Regions from separate parts of the Homo sapiens genome. Here region 2 is reported to be linked to region 1. Evidence: microRNA targets listed by miRTarBase, many of them from high-throughput screens and not tested one by one. Region 1 holds a microRNA gene; the other region holds the end of a gene's coding sequence.
Evidence for each region. Region 1 holds the annotated microRNA hsa-miR-550a-5p (AGUGCCUGAGGGAGUAAGAGCCC, at 4,272-4,294, shown strand). A microRNA usually pairs through its seed, bases 2 to 8, with sites in the 3' UTR of a target mRNA and lowers its output. Matches are read on the target gene's strand: a 7mer-m8 pairs with bases 2 to 8, a 7mer-A1 pairs with bases 2 to 7 and ends in A, and an 8mer does both.

Region 1 (9,011 bases):
GGCGGCGCCGCGGCGGCCGCGGCGGCCCCGGCAGCCCCGGCGGCCCCGCGCAGCCGCTCCCTCGGCGGGGCCGTGGGGAGCGTGGCGTCGGGGGCCCGCGCGGCGCAGTCCCCCTTCAGCATCCCGAACAGCAGCAGCGGCCCGTACGGCTCGCAGGACTCGGTGCACAGCAGCCCTGAGGACGGCGGCGGCGGCCGGGACCGGCCGGTGGGCGGGAGCCCCGGCGGGCCGCGCCTGGTGATCGGCTCCTTACCAGCTCACCTCTCGCCGCACATGTTTGGAGGTACGGACCCCTCTCCGCGCACCCGCGCTCGGTCCTCCCGCGGCTGCACGTGGGCCGTGGCCGCCGGCTATTTTTACCCTTCTCCTTTTCTCCTTCTGCCGGGGCGCCGGGGGCTGCCTCCCGGACCAGCCCGCGTCGGTCTCCATCCTGGAAGAAACCCGGCGCTTAACACCGGCGGTGCCGCTACCGCATAGACGCGTGGTTTTGTTTTTAAACATCCTGAGCACCCTCACCTCAGCGGCTGCCCAGTAGAGAAAGTCTATTTTCCAGTGAGATGACTGGAGCAAATGTTGTTTTACAACAAACCGACGAAACAGCCCTTGTGGTTGTGGTTTTTAGTACCAGGAAGTCAGGAGGAGACCAGTTGCTAAATGTAGTTCTATCTGGGGACTCGAGTGGGGAACAGTTTTTAAAGGCCAAAAGTCAAAGCGTCTCAAATGAACACTGAGTTACCATGTTTGGACCGACTTTTAGTATAAAGCTGTAATCCTGAAATCTGTGTCAGTAGTCCCAGTTACTATGTCATTTTAATTGGATGAATGCGTTAATGAAAAGTTTGTTTTTAAACCTCACTAAACTGCTACTTAAGATCACAGTTAATGTGAGTCCTGCTTAATTTGGAAAGCATTTAAAAAATGGAAAAGTTTCTTAAGGAAGTAAAAATTTTGCACATCTGTCTTCAAGGTACAATAATTGGCTAGGTTCTTTTGAAGAGCAGTGTTGACTAGAGTTAAGGAAAAGTCAGTTGTGAAAAATGGACATTTTTAATAGCAAAGTGATGTACTTTACTACAGAAACAGGAGGAAGTGTGCGTTGTCCTGGGGAAAATGAATCCTACTTCTTCAGTTATGTTTTATGCTGATCTACTTTATTGCAAAACGCTAATAGTAAATGAATCAAGACCACCTCCCCTCTCCCCTTTATGAAAATAAATAGAAGTATAGAAGATAAGCATTCCCATTTCATCGCATTATGTATCTGGTATTAGAAAAATTAGCAACTGAGCACAGATGAGCAGCGAAAACACGATCCCCTACATTTTTGTGCCGCTTTTACTTATATATTTGTAAACGTAGGAACTTTGGAGACTTAGTAAAGTGGAATACGTAGTAATTTATCCGTTCTCATGTTCTGTACTATCAGCACACACGCCAGCATAAATTAAAAACAGGAATGTCATGTTTCATTTTTCCCATTTTTTTAGTAACGCTTTGCAAATTCAATTGGAACGACGCTTGACTTTTAATTAGCTACCTTGTTTTAAAGTAATTTTTGCTTCTTAAAAATATTCATCCCTCTTAAAATTGGGCTATTTTTAAAAGTCATTTGCTTTTGATTTTGAGTAAAAGAACTCTACTGGTGTCCTTAAAGTGATTTGATCACAACTAACCTAACAGTTGAAGTTGCTGTAGTCCGCACTGAAGAATATAAAAGGCAGTTTCTGAGAATTGGTGATTAGTGCGAGAATGAAGGGCAAACTGGTTTTTAATGTTTATCATTATCTTTTTAAAGTGAAAATTTGCATTTAGCAATTATTAGAAGATGAATATTTAAGTTTGCTAAAGAAGGGTGAATAGGAAAAGCCTTGTCAAGTTAATAGTTAATATTTATTTAATATGCTGATTTCTAAAAATTCATTTTCTAAGAGCTGATAATTCCCTTTGAGAAACATTATAGTTCTGTGGGTTTATTTTGTTAAGTAAATGCATTCTATTCAGAGCAAGAGACAGTTGAGCCCCATGCTATTCCTAGTAAGTAAAAATACCTAGTTGCTTAAAGTTGGAGATAAAGCATTTATCTTTTTTCTTATCTAAGTTCTAGATTTGTGCACTCATTATAGTTCTTTTAGTGCTGTTGGGGTTGGGTGACTGGGGCCTAGTAGTACAGTGACACTTTCTGAGGAACTTACAGCAGCCTTTCTCACCCGGCTTTCTGGAGACAATTGTGCCGTAGTGTGCAATGAATTTTAACTTTTAGCTCCAGTGCATTTAGAACGGTTTTAGTTATGTATCATTCTTGGAACAATTGAGAAAAGTCACTGAAATAATTTCCTGTGTTTGGTGATTCAGATGAGGAACCTCAGTTGAGAATTGCTGGAAAGACATCAGAGAAATTACCTGTTCTTATTATATGACAGGATCAGATGAAAGTGCCACATCCTGAAATCTCTGTTGAGGCAGGGAGATGGAATACATTTACGTAAAAACCCATCTTAGTGGCATTGCCTTACTGAGATTTTTACCTATATTTTAGTGGACGGGTTATTAGGAAAACAATAGAAGCATGTTTCTCATCATCTTGAGATTTAGGGAGCTAAATGAAGAATCTTATAATTAAAAAAGACTTGACTAGTTCACATTTACTTAACTTTTTAGTATCTATTATAACATTATTGTGTTTATTCAGTTACAAATTGTATAAATGGTTATATACAAATAACTGCATCTGAAAATTGATAAAAGGATTATTTCAGAATTAGTGGAAAGTTCGTATTGTTTTTTGTAAAACTGTTGTTTTAATTGTTGTTTATATTATTAACGTCTCCTAATAAGAAAATGTGGTACTAATAAGATTCAAAATTATTCTCTTGTGAGCTCTCATGTAATTTATAGAAAATGAAAAACAGTCCCCCCCTTTTATTTTTAACACTTAAGAGTCTAGCAAGTGGAATTGTTAGTAGTTCTCTCATAATGAATTGCCACATTGAACGAGGAAGTTTTCTGTGTTGGTTTTATGTTTTGATGTCATTTGGACATCTGTTTTGGCTATATACACTCTTATTCTCTCTAGAGAACTGGAAGAAAAATGCCTAATCCAGATATTTCAGTGTGTAGAAATTTCCTAGAATTGAGTTGCCAGACATCAGAATGTGATTATATTTATATAGGAGTTTTTAGGTGAAGTAAATCTTGTCCTTATTATTCTTTTCAGACTGAGGAGTGTTAAAGTGAACAGACGCTTTCTTGACTACTGCTAGTGTCGTCCATCACCTTTGTTTTAAAACAGGTCTTAAGGGTATTTCCTAATATTTAAAAATGTTGATGGTATTTTAGGGTTTGTTTGGCTTTAATTTACGTCTACGTTTTTTTTTCCACTGTCAAGTAGCTGTTGTTCATAAGAGCATAATATGAGTGGTCAAATAGCCTTTAATGATGCAGCAAGGATGGGGTAGATGAATTGGGCTATAGAAATATACCAATACATGGAGATTATTTCCAGAGAAATCGTGTGGACTTCTATAATGTATCCTTGAGTCCAGAAGTGAAAATGTAAAATGACTTAATCTAAGACAACCAGTGGTGCTGGGTTGCTTTTGGCCTCCTGATTTTCTTGAGCTTTTTTGGGTGTGGCTTGCTCATGAGTATTTCAGTAGTCTGATTGTAACTCAGGTGCCTTGCTACTTGTGAAACATGTTTTCTTATATTGAAGGAGTGTGGGTTATCTCTTAAAACTGAATATGTTGAATAAGACCTGTATTTCTAGGAAGATTTCTCTTAATTTTTAAGGCAGATGTGAAGTTTTATGGTGTTAGGTTATCTTCATCAATTAACCATTATGGAATCGGTCTCAGTTATCACTTCTTACCAATATCAAGTGCCAAAATGTTTGAATTTGGGATATTGTAATTAATCTATTTCCTATTCCTGAATGTTATTTTGTGCCATTGAAGGCTTTTATGGGGAGTGGCCGAAGAGGAATGTTTGCCTCTTTCTAAGAAAAATGAGCCTTCTAACCACAACCCCTGCCACTCCTGAAGTAATAAGAATTTTGGTGGTTATTGTTCCTCACTTGTAATTTCATACCTTCGTGTTACATGTTTTGCTGTGTGTAAGTGTGGCCTGTGTCATGGAAGTTTCTGCTTTGGGAATTTTTTGGAATTATTCTTGACTGCAAGGTGGGGAGGATTGGTGAGTTGCACAGGGCATCACCTGATCTGAGAGCAGCGTGACCTAAGAACCTGGTATTTTGATGCTTTGCTGGCTGGTGCAGTGCCTGAGGGAGTAAGAGCCCTGTTGTTGTAAGATAGTGTCTTACTCCCTCAGGCACATCTCCAACAAGTCTCTTGCTCTCCTCCAATTTGATCGCTTTGCCTGGTGACCAGTAACTAAGTTCTTCTGATTACCAAATATCATTAATGAGATATCAACTTTTAAACTATTTATTATTATTTGGGTTTTAAGGAGAATTGCCCTAATATTAAACTTATTACATGTAGTATTATGTATAATTGGGTATATTGGCAAATGTGTTAAAAGAGAGTGTAGGAACTGCTTTATGTAGCAAATTACTTCCTAAGTTTTATGTGAATATTCTTAAGAACTGTTATTTGAAATGTTAGTCTGTGTTTTAATTTTGCATGTACATGACATTTATTTGTTAAGAAATTGGACAAAACATAGGCCTTTTTGTGAACAAAGGGTTCAGAAATACCTTAGGTTCTGATTTTATTCGTTTTCTAAGCTGCTTATTCACAAATGACTGCAAATTTAGTGGTTCTAAGCAACACGTTTATTGCCTTGCAATTTCTGTGGGTCAAGAGGCTGGGCACAACTTAGCTGTGTCCTCTTTAAGACTGCAGTCAAAGTGTAGGTCAGGGCAGGGTTGTTATCTAGTGACTCAACTGGGGAAAGGTCTGCCCACAGACTTCCTTGGGTTATTGGCTGAATTTATTTCCTTGTGTCTGTTAGGTTCAGAGCAGCTTGCTTCTTCAAAGTAAGCAAAGGAAAGGTGAACTGGTGCTATGTTCTTACATAATCGTGTACATGTAATCACATACAACCCATTGCCTTTGCTGTATTTCATTCATTAGAAGCAAGTCATAGGTCCAGTTCACGTGCAAGGGGAGGGAATTATACAAAGGTTTAAACACCAGGAAGTGTAGGAATCAAGAATAGTCACATCAGTTCTTTCTGCCACATGGATTATAGATAGATTGACAGCTGAACATGTAACTTCTTTTTTAAACTCATTTTAATTTACTTTTAAAAAGTTGTACTAATGCATATGGTTAAGTATAGCATTAATAAACATGAACTTAACCCCTTTTAGGGGCTGGACATTATAGATACTGAGGGTACAAATATGGAGCTTCTTTATGCACTGCTCAACTCTCCATTGAATTTGAGAGATGGATATATGTGATCATTATACAATGCAACAAATTCTGTAATAGAACTGTTAACAAAACACTTAGTGAAGTATCTTTGTCTAGGCTGGTCAAAAAATGCTTCACAGAGGAGGGTACGTTTGAACTGTAGTTTGAAGGATTTAGAAGTTGTACGGAGAGAGGGCAGTACAGACTAAAGAAAAATCCACAAAAGTGTGGGTTTTGATAGGGCATACTGAAAAGTTAAATATGTCTGGATTGTAGGGTGCATAGAGGAATGATGAGAACCTGAAGCTAGAAAAATAGAAAGTGGAGCCAGTTGAAAGATTTTATAGTGCTGTAGGTTTGTTTTATCTAATGAAGTTTGAAAGCAGGGGGAGTATCATGATTAGGCCATTGGGCACAATTAACACTCGTAGTTTACATGGATGGCAACCTTCTCTAGTGGTGCAGACTTCAGGCTGTATGCAGCAACCCTGATCAGGATTCAGTTCTTAAGGAGGAGAGTGTGATAGCAGGAGAATAAGTTAGGATTCTTTTAAAATATAACTGATAGAAGATGCCTATGTTGAAAACATGGCATTGGTGAGGGAGAAGAAAAGTTAGATTTGATTGAGATTTCTAAGCTAGAACTGATAGAATTGACCTGGGTACATAGTGATGTCTTTAACCAGTATTAAAGATGAAAAGAACAAGTTTTAGGAAATGATAATGAGTTCCTTTCAGGCCTGTTAAATTTGAGTGGCTACAGGATTTTCATCTGGATAGAAGTATACTTTAAGTGGTTGGAAACATGAGTCTCTAATTCAGGATATTACAAAAAACTGAGAAATCAATTTGCAAGTTATAAATGAATCCAGAAAGTGGATAAGATTACTAAGGGATGAATATAGATTGACGAAGGACAAGGATGGAATCCAGAGGAGCAAGTATTTTAAGAGACAGGGAGAGGAAGAGGCCAGCAGTTAGAATTCAACCAGAGGGAAAGGAAGTTTTTTAAAAACCTGGGTTTTTTTTTAATTATAAAAATAATACCTGTTCACTAGAGAAAAACTAACATACGGAAAAGCAGGTATAAAAATCGCAAATTGCTTGTAATTTTACCACCAGAAATAACTGTTAATGTCTTTTATATATGTATTTGTTTTAGACACAAAATTTGGAACATTCATTTTTATATTGTTTTGATTTTAACCTTTCTGATGTTCTAATACAAAGTTTTAAAGCTACACATTTTCCTCCAAGAATTGCTTTACCTGAATCCCACTGATGTTGAAGTGTTCTTGTTAACATTCAGTGAAAAATGTATTTTAATTTCCCATATGATTTCTTCTTGATCCATGGGTTACATATTCTTTGATAACATGCTGTTTCCATTTCCACCAGTTTCTAACATCACATTAAAATTTTTTATAACATGATTTTTAATTATTACCCAGTATTCCAAAAATCACTCAAATATTTAATGAGGACGCGCTTTTCCGGACACTATTCTGGGGGTACAGCAGTGAAGAAATAAGATAAAAATCCCTGCTTTTAGGGGCCTTATTATTCTATTTGGGAGAGATAGTAAACAGACAAGTAAAATACATAGTGTGTTAGGGCATTGAGTGTAATGGAAAAAAAATGGAGTGCAAAGGCTGATAGAGATTCTGGGGTGGAGGCCTATCTATAGTTGCTATTTTAAATCGGGTTTTAAGGATGACCTCACTGACAAGGTGACAATTCAAGCAGAAAGTGAAGGAGCAAGTCATGAGGATCTCTGGGGTAAAAACATATTCAGGCACAGGGAGCAGTAACTATAAAGGCCCTGAGGCATGAGTGTACCTGATATGTAGGTTTACTTACAGCTGGAGTGCAGAGGGCTGTAGAAGATGAGAGCATAGTGGGGTGGCATGAGGTTGGGACAGAATCATAAACTGCCTCATAACCACTGACCTGTGGTTTGCGGCTTTTGTTTTAAAGAGGGATGGGGAGTATTTTTGTGCAGAGGATTGACATAATCTGACTTGGGTTTTAAAGGATTACTCTGGCTATTGTGTGAGGTGGCAAGAGTCAGCAAGGAGGCAAAAATCCAGATGAAAGATAACAGTGGCTTGGACTGGGTGGCAGTGCTGGAGGTGCTAAGCAGTGGCCAGATTCTGCATATCCCGTGTTTTGAAGATAGAGCCACCTGGATTAGATGTGGAGGTATGAGAGAAAATGAAGAGTCAAGGATTTATTTCGTTGTTCCTTATGGTTGAGCATTTTGTTTGTTTGGTACAGATGTAATAAAATACTGTTGCCATGAACACCCTGGTAAGCAAATTTTTACATTTTTTTTTTTTTTTTTTGGGATGGAGTCTTGCTCTGTCACCCAGGCTACAGTGCAGTAGTGCGATCTTGGCTCACTGCAACCTCTGCCTCCCAGGTTCAAGTGATTCTTGTGCCCCAGCCTCCCAAGTAGCTGGGATTACAGGTGTGCACCACCATGCCTCACTAATTTTTGTATTTTTAGTAGAGACTGGGTTTTGCCATGTTGGCCAGGCTAGTCTTGAGCTCTTGGCCTCAAGTGATTCGCCCACCTCAGCCTCCCAAAGTGCTGGGATTACAGGCCTGAGTGCCCGGCCAGTTCTTAGAAATTTATCAGCGACATGGGATTGCCAGAAACAAAGATACACTTTTGTTCAAGGCATTGGATCTTTATTGCCAAATTGCTCATTAGAGATGGAAACAGCTTCTAGCAAGGTATAATCTTTGGGACTACGTAAAATTTTTTAACCCATAAAAACTTGTGAGGTTTTTGATATTTATAAGTGCAGATTGGTGGATATATTTCGAGTAATGTCACCTATCAGAGTCATTATTTCATTCAGGGCTCTTTTTTTAGCGACGAAAATATTAGTGTGTCAGAAAATTATAGATGTATTCAGTCATTTGAATTTCATAAGTTCCGACCATGTGGAATATCCTAATTTTTGCTTGAATTGTGATTAGTCTGTAATAGTTCTTTAATTTACCTATTTATATGTGAGCTGAGGAAAAAAAGAAGAATGAAGCCATGCATACATAATGGGTTATTTATTTTTATTTTTATTGTCTTTTTTTTCTTTCCTTTTTGTGGAGAACAGGGTCTCGCTATATTGCCCAGGCAGGATTATGTGTAATATGTTTCAGAGAGCCAGTGCTCAGTTTGAACAACACATTTTGCTATTTTTGTTGGTTTTTAATTTTTTCTACTGTTACCTCTATTCTGTTCGTTCTCATTTTGTAAAGTTAATTTTGTTCTTTCTCTTAGCTTCTTTTATTTTTTATTTATTATTTTTTAATGATAAAAGCGTTTAAGGCTGTGTTTACTTCTTGTTACATATAGTCACTTCCCAAAGCTTTGGATACTTACCATTTTCATTATCATTGAGTACACATTTTTGTTTCTTTTAAAATCAGTTCTATCGGGGAATAATCATGTTAACTGCATTTCGATATTTTCTTTTACTTGGAAGTTATTTTAAAGTGTGGCTTTATTGTGGTGGTCCTTACTAGTACCCTTTCGTTACTTCTAGTGTTAATTTAGAAATATTGCACCGTGGCTGGGCACTGTGGCTCATGCCTGTAATCCTAGCACTTTGGGAGGCCCAGGTG
Region 2 (9,011 bases), not on the chromosome of region 1:
GCCTCGGCCTCCTGAAGTGCTGGGATTACAGGTGTGAGCCACCACGCCCGGCCCAGGGTGCTCTTAATTCAGAACACAAATGAATTCAGAGGGATGGTGCTGCATAGGCATGAGCCGCTTCTACGATACTCGGGTCTGAACTGTCCCTGGGAAGTTGCTGCTCCATTTATCCCTGGTAGCTGCTTGTAACTTCCACTCCTGGAAGGAAGCATTAGGCATTAGGAAACATTAGGCATGACTAATGCCTATTAATCATATAAATTTTTAACCATAAAGAAGGGGTTAAATGTAATGTAGATAAGTTGGTGGGGGAGGTAAGGTTTAACTTAATTGTGCCGTTTGACAATCCTCCTTCAGAACTGGCATTGCCCGCCTTGTCGAGGAATCTGCAACTGCAGTTTCTGCCGGCAGCGAGATGGACGGTGTGCGACTGGGGTCCTTGTGTATTTAGCCAAATATCATGGCTTTGGGAATGTGCATGCCTACTTGAAAAGGTAGTGGGTGTTTTTTTTTCCCTTCCACATCTGAATTTTATATTCATTTATGTCTTAATGAGAAGATGATAGATGTCAGAAGAGTGGTTATCTCTGGCGGGGTGGAGACTGACTGGAACGGGGCACACTGGAAGGGATGGGAACATTTTCTGTCTTCACTTAGGTGGTGGTAACCCGGGTGGGTGGGTGTGTATGAAAAAGTCAGGTAATATACTTGAAGATGCGCACACTTGACCATAGTGATGTTATAACTCAATAAAAATGGTTTTAAAAATGAATTAGGCTTTCAAAAGAGAATTCTTTGGTTGAAAACTATGTCCTGACACATTTCCTTTTGTTTTTCACAGCCTGAAACAGGAATTTGAAATGCAAGCATAATATCTGGAAAATTTGCTGCCTGCCTTCTACTTCTCAAATCTTTCTTGTAAAAGTTTCCAATTTTTTCACTGAAACCTGAGTTAAAAATCTTGATGATCAGCCTGTTTCATAAGAAACTCCAATCAAGTTAATCTTAGCAGACATGTGTTTCTGGAGCATCACAGAAGGTATATTGCTAGTTACACTTTGCCCTCCTGCAGTTTCTTCTCTGCTCCCAACCCCCATCTCACAGCATCCCCCTCTATTTCCAATGCTCCTCTCCAACCGCTTAGTTTCTGAATTTCTTTTAAATTACAGTTTTATGAAAGCATATTTTATTTACTTGGTGTTGAAATAGCCCTCATAAAACCTAAGCACTTGGAAACACAATAATAGTATTAACTAACTAGATCTATTGAATTTCAGAGAAGAGCCTTCTAACTTGTTTACACAAAAACGAGTATGATTTAGCATTCATACTAGTTGAAATTTTTAATAGAATCAAGGCACAAAAGTCTTAAAACCATGTGGAAAAATTAGGTAATTATTGCAGATTGATGTCTCTCAATCCCATGTATTGCGCTTATGTTACAAGTTGTTGTCACAGTTGAGACTTAATTTCTCCTAATTTCTTCTGCCCGAAGGGTAAGTGGTGCGTCCAGCTTACACAATCATAATTCAAAGGTTGGTGGGCAATGTAATACTTAATTAAAATAATGATGGAAGAGCTATCTGGAGATTATGAGTAAGCTGATTTGAATTTTCAGTATAAAACTTTAGTATAATTGTAGTTTGCAAAGTTTATTTCAGTTCACATGTAAGGTATTGCAAATAAATTCTTGGACAATTTTGTATGGAAACTTGATATTAAAAACTAGTCTGTGGTTCTTTGCAGTTTCTTGTAAATTTATAAACCAGGCACAAGGTTCAAGTTTAGATTTTAAGCACTTTTATAACAATGATAAGTGCCTTTTTGGAGATGTAACTTTTAGCAGTTTGTTAACCTGACATCTCTGCCAGTCTAGTTTCTGGGCAGGTTTCCTGTGTCAGTATTCCCCCTCCTCTTTGCATTAATCAAGGTATTTGGTAGAGGTGGAATCTAAGTGTTTGTATGTCCAATTTACTTGCATATGTAAACCATTGCTGTGCCATTCAATGTTTGATGCATAATTGGACCTTGAATCGATAAGTGTAAATACAGCTTTTGATCTGTAATGCTTTTATACAAAAGTTTATTTTAATAATAAAATGTTTGTTCTAACTTGTCTGCTTTTTTAAAAATAATCTTACTGTACTTAATTCTAATTTTTTCCTCATATTTAAATAAAAGGCCATTTCCACCTTTTCTAAAAAAGTCTCCCTTTTGACTGAAGTTTCTGAAGTTCTAAGGTCAGCTTGTTTGAAAGGACCTCACTAGGTGACAGGACTAATACCTGTGATCAGAAAACGGGCGGAGACAACCACAGTGCCTGATAGAAAACAATATGTGCCCATGAAGTTTTGTAGTGTTTTCTTTTCCTTTATGATGTGCTTTGCAATACCTGGCTTACTTTTATCAACCATTCAAACATATATTAAATGCATGCTGTGCCTTGAGGCTTGTTCCAGGACTGTGAGAATCAACAAAAAAGGCATGGTCTAAAAGCTCTCATAGCCCAATTCTTTTTTTATTTTTTGTAGAGACAGGTCTTGCTATGTTGCTCAGGCTGGTTTCAAACTCCTGGGCTCAAGGGATCCTCCTGCCTTGGCCTCCCAAAGTCACAGGCAAGAGCCACCACCACACCGGCTGTCCAATTCTTTAGACCAGGGATTGGCAAACTACAGCCTGTGGGCTACATGCTGCTGCAGAGTTTATTCGTATGGCATATGAACTAAGTATTTTTTTTTCCATTTGGAAAGGGTTGTTAAATAAGCAGAGACAATATGGTTCACAAAACCTAAGATATTTACAACCTGGCACTTTACAGAAAAAGTTTACTGTGTCTGCTCTAGAGTTATTTGAGAAGCCATGTTTACCCCATGCTCATCTGGGGAGAAGAACAAGCTAAGTGAAATTGTACAACTGGTATTCTGTGTAGATCCAAAAGAAATCAGTAACTTTGTTTTTGTAAACTTTTTGGATCTTAACCCAAATTATAATCCAACCTTATTGGATATGTAATTGGGAAGCTTAAATGTTTAGAGTTCATATAAATTGATGCTTATTTGGAAAAGTTCAGGTGATACCATGTTTTAATAGGAAGTAGAACTAATGGTGGTTTTCATTAAAAATTAACTGTAACAGTTGATTTGGATGCCTTATCCTTAAAGGATTTACAATCTAATGGGGGAACTAAGATGAAAACCCAAAAATAATGTTCTCAGCAGGAATGAAGGGAAAAAAACAAATTGGCATTTTCCCATCACCAGACATTTTAAAACATGGGTGAGCTCCTGGGTTTTGTGATGATCCCATTTTATAATAAGGAGCCTTAGGTCAGTTGCTCAGCCTCAGCCTTGACTGTGGGAGCCCACGGGGCCCACTGCAGAGCTCCACAGGCCATCCTGAGTGGAGAGAACTCCGGTTTTCACAGCTAGCTGCAAAAAATGGTGTTAGGGTGGCTGTGCCCCAGGAACTGCTTTCATATTTGTTTCTTCAACCTGAGGTAGAGTTTTCTGAGGTAGAGATGGTATTTACGTTTTGATTCTTACTTAGGAGTTAAGAAATGACATACGAACTAAAAAGGCTTTCACAATGAAGGGCAAAGGCTGCAGTTAGAGGGTTTTGCTGGAAGGTTTTGTTTTTGTTTCATTTTGCTTTTAGAAGAAAGTGAGAGGGGACTTCTGATTGCCCCAGGAAGGAAATGAGGTCACTGGGAGAATGGAACTAGAGGTCTCAGTGCTTTAGGAGAAGATGGGAGTATGGGGACAGTATTAGGTACTCAGTCCTGAGGGGAATAGGAGGTTTTATGTTAATGCTAACCTCACATCCATTAGATGTCTGAAAGAATGGGGAAGTAAATCCAGATAAGTTGAGAAAAATGCCCAGTATCACACAGCTCCAAAGAGGCAAAGCTAGGCCAAACACCAGAGAGAGGACTTTATTCTTTTTTTCCCTCTTTAAGCTGACTTTGCCTTAGGAGTCAAAGAAGAGCGGGTTGTTGATAAGGTTCTGGCAGGGAGAACAAGGGCATCTTGGGTGCTGGGTACAGCCTGGCTGATGTGGCTTACTGTAGAAACCCTGCTGAACAGGGAGGCTGGCAGGGCTGGAAGGGGTCTGAGCGTTTGTGTGGATCAGGGGGTTGCACTGGGGGCGAAGATGGGTGGAGAGCAGGTTCAGAAGGAATGAGGCAGTGGGACAGTAGGAAACCAGGGCTTTGGATGATCCTACATGGATGTTAGAAACCCCCGAGGTTTTAACTGAAGGGCATGGGAATCCTGTGGGTGGAGAGGACTCCTTAGATAACTACAAGGTTGGGGAAGGAGGAGGAAAAGCAGGGGGCAAGAAAACTTTCTAGGAGCCGTTGCTGTGAGACAACGGAAGAGGGACTAGAGCTTGGGGTGGCAATAAAGAGCCAGCAATCTGACTGGGACTGTAAGGGATGGACTCCTGGTTGCAGAGGAACTGGCACATTCCAGAGAAAGTCCTTTATCTGTTATAACATCCAGGTGATGTAAGCATTTGAGGGAAGGAGCAAGGAACAAAAGAGATACCACTCAAAGCTGAAAGCCATGAACATTTTGTTTTTTTCTAATCTGTATTTTGTTTTGTATGGTAGCACTTACACTACATATGCAACTATTAGCATTAAAATTTGGCCCCAGTGTGGTCTTTGGTAGCTTCTTTTGTTTTCTGGTAAGATCCAATGTTACAGGCTCACTCTTACACATTCTCTACCCTAAGCCTGGAGTCAGCCATTTCTCCCAAGTGCTTTGCTTTCAAAACATTTCTTTTATATCTATCTATTAATTGTTAGTATATTTGTGTATATATACATGTATACACATGCATACATATACATATTGGTATTTATATGTAAAAATAATGTGGCTATGTATACATATGGCTTCAGAATTATAATATGTATATAGTATAATACATATAATATAGAATATAAAATTGTATATTTAAATTATATAATATAGTTATATATTAAAATATATAATATCAAATTAATATGTAATATAAAATTATAATTACATAATAATTATATAGTAACACAGAATTATAGTACATATAATATGGCTTCAGTATAATTAGGCTGGGCGCGGTTGGCTCATACCTATAATCCCAGCACTTTGGGAAGCTGAGGCGGGAGGATTGCTTGAGCCCAGGAGTTCAAAACCATCCTGGGCAACATAGTGAGACCCTGTCTCTACAAAAAATAAAAAATTAGGCCTTGTTAGCCTCCTATTGCCTTTCAGATAAATGGTAGCATACTACTTACTACATACTCTTTTTACCCTGCCTTTTTCACTTAACTATATATATGGGAGATAAACATAATTTTATTATACAAAGAATTCTGGCCGGGAGCAGTGGCTCATGCCTGTAATCCCAGCACTTTGAGAGGCCGAGGGGGGTGGATCACCTGAGGTCATGAGTTTGAGACCAGCCTGGCCAACATGGTGAAACCCCATCTCTACTAAAAATACAAAAATTAGCCAGGCCTGGTGGCACACCTGTAATCTCAGCTACTTGGGAGGCTGAGGCTCAAGGATTGCTTGAACCTGGGAGGTGGAGGCTGCAGTGAGCCAAGATCGTGCCATTGCACTCCATCCTCAGCAAGAGAGCGAGACTCTGACTCAAAAGAAAAAAAAAAGAATTCTGAAGTTATAATCAGTACTCACAAGTACGAACATGGAATTAAGCTTTAGAGTTTCAGAGGAAAAAAAATATTGTAGATAATTGTTTTCTGTTCTAGTCAAATGCCCAAGGACAGACTATTCTGTGGGCTTATGCTAGGAAAGTCAAATTTCAGCCGGGCTCAGTGGCTCACACCTGTAATCCCAGCACTTTGGGAGGCCAAGGTGGGCGAATCACTTGAGGTCAGGAGTTTGGGACCAGCCTGGCCAAAATGGTGAAACCCAACCCAGTCTCTACTAAAAATACAAAAATTAGACAGGTGTGGTGGTGTGTACCTGTAATCCCAGCTACTCGGGAGGCTGAGGCAGGAGAAGCAGGAGAATCATTTGAACCTGGGAGGCGGAAGTTGCCATGAGCAGAGATTGTGCCACTGCTCTCCAGCCTGGGCAACAGCCAGACTCAGTCTCAAAAAAAAAAAAAAAAAAAAAAGTAAAATTTCCTCTCCTCACACACTTAGTAGGCAAGCCATATCAACAGGAACCAGTATTTCAGTTTTATTTTTATTTGGTTTTCCATACTTTAATAGACTAATCCTTAAGTTTGTCTTCTAAATTGAATAGCTATAAATGTTTTTCACTGCTTAATGACCATCCACTGTGTTTTTTTGAGATGGAGTCTCGCTTTGTCCCAGGCTGGAGTACAGTGGCACAATCTCGGCTCACTGCAACCTCCGCCTCCCAGGTTCAAGTGATTCTCCTGCCTCAGCCTCCCGAGTAGCTGGGATTACAGGCGCCCGCCACCACACCCGGCTAATTTTTGTATTTTTAGTAGACACAGGTTTTCGCCCCATGTTGGCCAGGCTGGTCTTGAACTCCTGACCTCAGGTGATCCACCTGCCCTCAGCTTCCCAAAGTGCTGGGATTACAGCCGTGAGCCACTATGCATGGCCTGTTTTTTTTTTTTTTTTTTTTTTAAACTGGTAATCACCACTGGCACTTGCCTGAATTTCCAAGATGTGACCATTTCGAGTACCCTAGTGCTTAAGGAGGAAAAATATGTAAATAAAATTCCTTTATGCAAATGCTTTCTGCAACTCTCATTGCCAGCCAAATTCTTGTAAATCATGATAAACAGATGCTACTGAACTAAATGAGTAAGTAAAATTATGGAGATAGATTCTATTTATCTTATTTTTCAGTGTTGGGGAGGGAGAAAAGGATATTAACTAAATTTTTTCTGTGCATGATGATTAGGGCAGACACCAAGAACTCTATTAATTGATTTTAGCAAGGCAGGATTTGGGACTCAGCTAGAGAGCTGCCCCTGGTAAGGGAAAAGTTCTATTGCAACTTTGCTTGACCAGAGAACTGGGTTTGGAAATAATTCAATATCAAGCTTGCTAGGTTCTGCCTATTGTTCAGCTTTTTGTTGCTTTTTTTCCGCCAACGTTTAAAAAAATTGTAGTAAAATTCACATAACATAAAATTTACCACTTTAACCCTTTCAAAGTATACAACTAGGTGGCTTCCAGTACATTCACAATGTTGTGCAACCATCATCACTATGTAACACTAGAACATTTTCATCACTCCCAGAAGAAACCTCGTACCCATTAAAAAGTCACTCCTTTTTTTCCTCTCTCCAACCCATGAGAACCTATTGCTTTCTGTCTCTGGATTTGCTTATATGCTGGACATTTGGAAACATACAATATGTTGCTTTTTGTATCTGGCTTTTTTGTTTTTCTAAACAGACAGGGTCTTACTGTGTCACTCAGGGTTGAGTGCAGCAGTGTGTGATCACAGCTCACTGCATCCTGGAACTCCTGGACTTAAGCAATCATGTCACCTCAGCCTCCCAGGTAGCTGGGAATTACAAGCATGAGCTACGACACCAAGCAGGGTCCTTTCACTTACTAATTCATTCATGTTAGGCCGGGTGCAGTGGCTCATGCCTGTACTCCCAGCACTTTGGGAGGCCGAGGCAGGTGGATCACTTGAGTCAGGAGTTTCAGACCAGCCTGGTCAACATGGTGAAACCCCATCTCTACTAAAAATATAAAAATTAACCAGGCATGGTGGCAGGTGCCTGTAATCCCAGCTACTTGGGAGGCTGAGGCATGAGAATCGCTGGAACTCGGGAGGCAGAGGTTCTAACGAGCCTAGACTGCACCATGGCACTCCAGCCTGGGTGACAAGAGCGAGACTCCGTGTTAAAAAAAAAATTAATAAATAAGATTCATCCATGTTGTATGTATCATCATTTTATTCCTCTTCATGCCCAAATATTCCATTGTATGGATATACCACAATTTATCCATATATCAGTTGGTGGACATTTTGGTTGTTTTCACCTTTTGGCTAGTGTGAATAGTGCGGCTATGAACATTTCACTTACACATTTTAGTTTGAACACCTAATTTCAGTACTCTTTGGTATATACCTAGGAGTGGAATCACTGAATCATATGGTAATTGTATGTTTAACTTTCTGAGGAGCTACCAAACTTTTTCTTAGTGGCTGCACCATTTTACATTTCCACTAGTAATGTGTGAGGGCTCCAGTTTCTCCACGTCCTTGCCAACACTTGTTATTTTCTGGTTTGTGTGTTTGTTTTATAGACATCCTAGTAGGCATGAAATGGTATCTCATTGTGATTTTGGATTCCATTCCTTAATGACAGATGATGTAGAGCATACTTTTATGTACTTGTTGGCCATTAGATTATCTTTGGAAAAAAGTCTACTTCAGCCCTTTGCCCATTTTATTTATTTGTTTATTTAAGAGACAGGGTCTTGCTCTGTCACCCAGGCTGGAGTACAGTGGCATGAGCATAGCTGACTGCAGCCTCAAACTCTTGGGCTCAAGCGATCCTCCCACTTGGCCTCCCAAAGCACTGGGATTACAGGCGTGAGCTACTGTGTTCAGACCCTTTGCCCATTTTAAATTGGGTTCTTTTCTTTTTGTTTTGAGTTTAAGAGTTAATATATTCTGGATATTAGATCTTTAGCAGATATGTGATTTGCAATTATTTTCTCCCATTTCTGTGGATTTTCCACTTTTATTTTTAACAGCTTTATAGAGATATAATTCACATACCATACAAACATTTGAAATGCTCCATTAAAGAATGCAATCAATGGTTTTTAGCATATCCACAGATATGTACAACCATCACTACTGTCAACTTTAGAACATTTTCAGCACCTCAGGAAGAAACCCTGTATCCTTTAGCTATTATCCCTACCTCTCATCCCTGCTTCCCCTAGGTCTAAGCAACCACCGACCTGTTAATACTTTCTGTCTGTATAGCTTCCCCTATTTCGGACTTTCATATGAATAGAATCATAAAGTATGTGGACTTTTGTGGCTGAC

Region 2: the mRNA of CDCA7 is a reported target of hsa-miR-550a-5p. Seed matches in the 3' UTR shown: 7mer-A1 at 1,356-1,362 and 8mer at 1,767-1,774.

What each region holds. Positions count from the first base shown.
Region 1 is chr7:30,285,544-30,294,554 of GRCh38, forward strand. It overlaps MIR550A1 (microRNA 550a-1), which reads left to right and starts at 4,251; the gene lies at 4,251-4,347. ZNRF2 (zinc and ring finger 2) reads left to right here. Exons shown (of 5, transcript NM_147128.4): 1 at 1-283. MIR550B1 (microRNA 550b-1) reads right to left here and starts at 4,347; the gene lies at 4,251-4,347. It overlaps LOC105375218 (a long non-coding RNA gene), which reads right to left and starts at 542. Exons shown (of 4, transcript NR_136267.1): 1 at 517-542. RefSeq lists silencers at 1-19, 170-299.
Region 2 is chr2:173,366,793-173,375,803 of GRCh38, forward strand. CDCA7 (cell division cycle associated 7) reads left to right here. Exons shown (of 10, transcript NM_031942.5): 9 at 358-494; 10 at 842-2,205. The coding sequence ends at 872. Among named protein-coding and RNA genes, the nearest start is that of CDCA7, 16 kb to the left of the region's middle. RefSeq lists an enhancer at 3,557-3,656.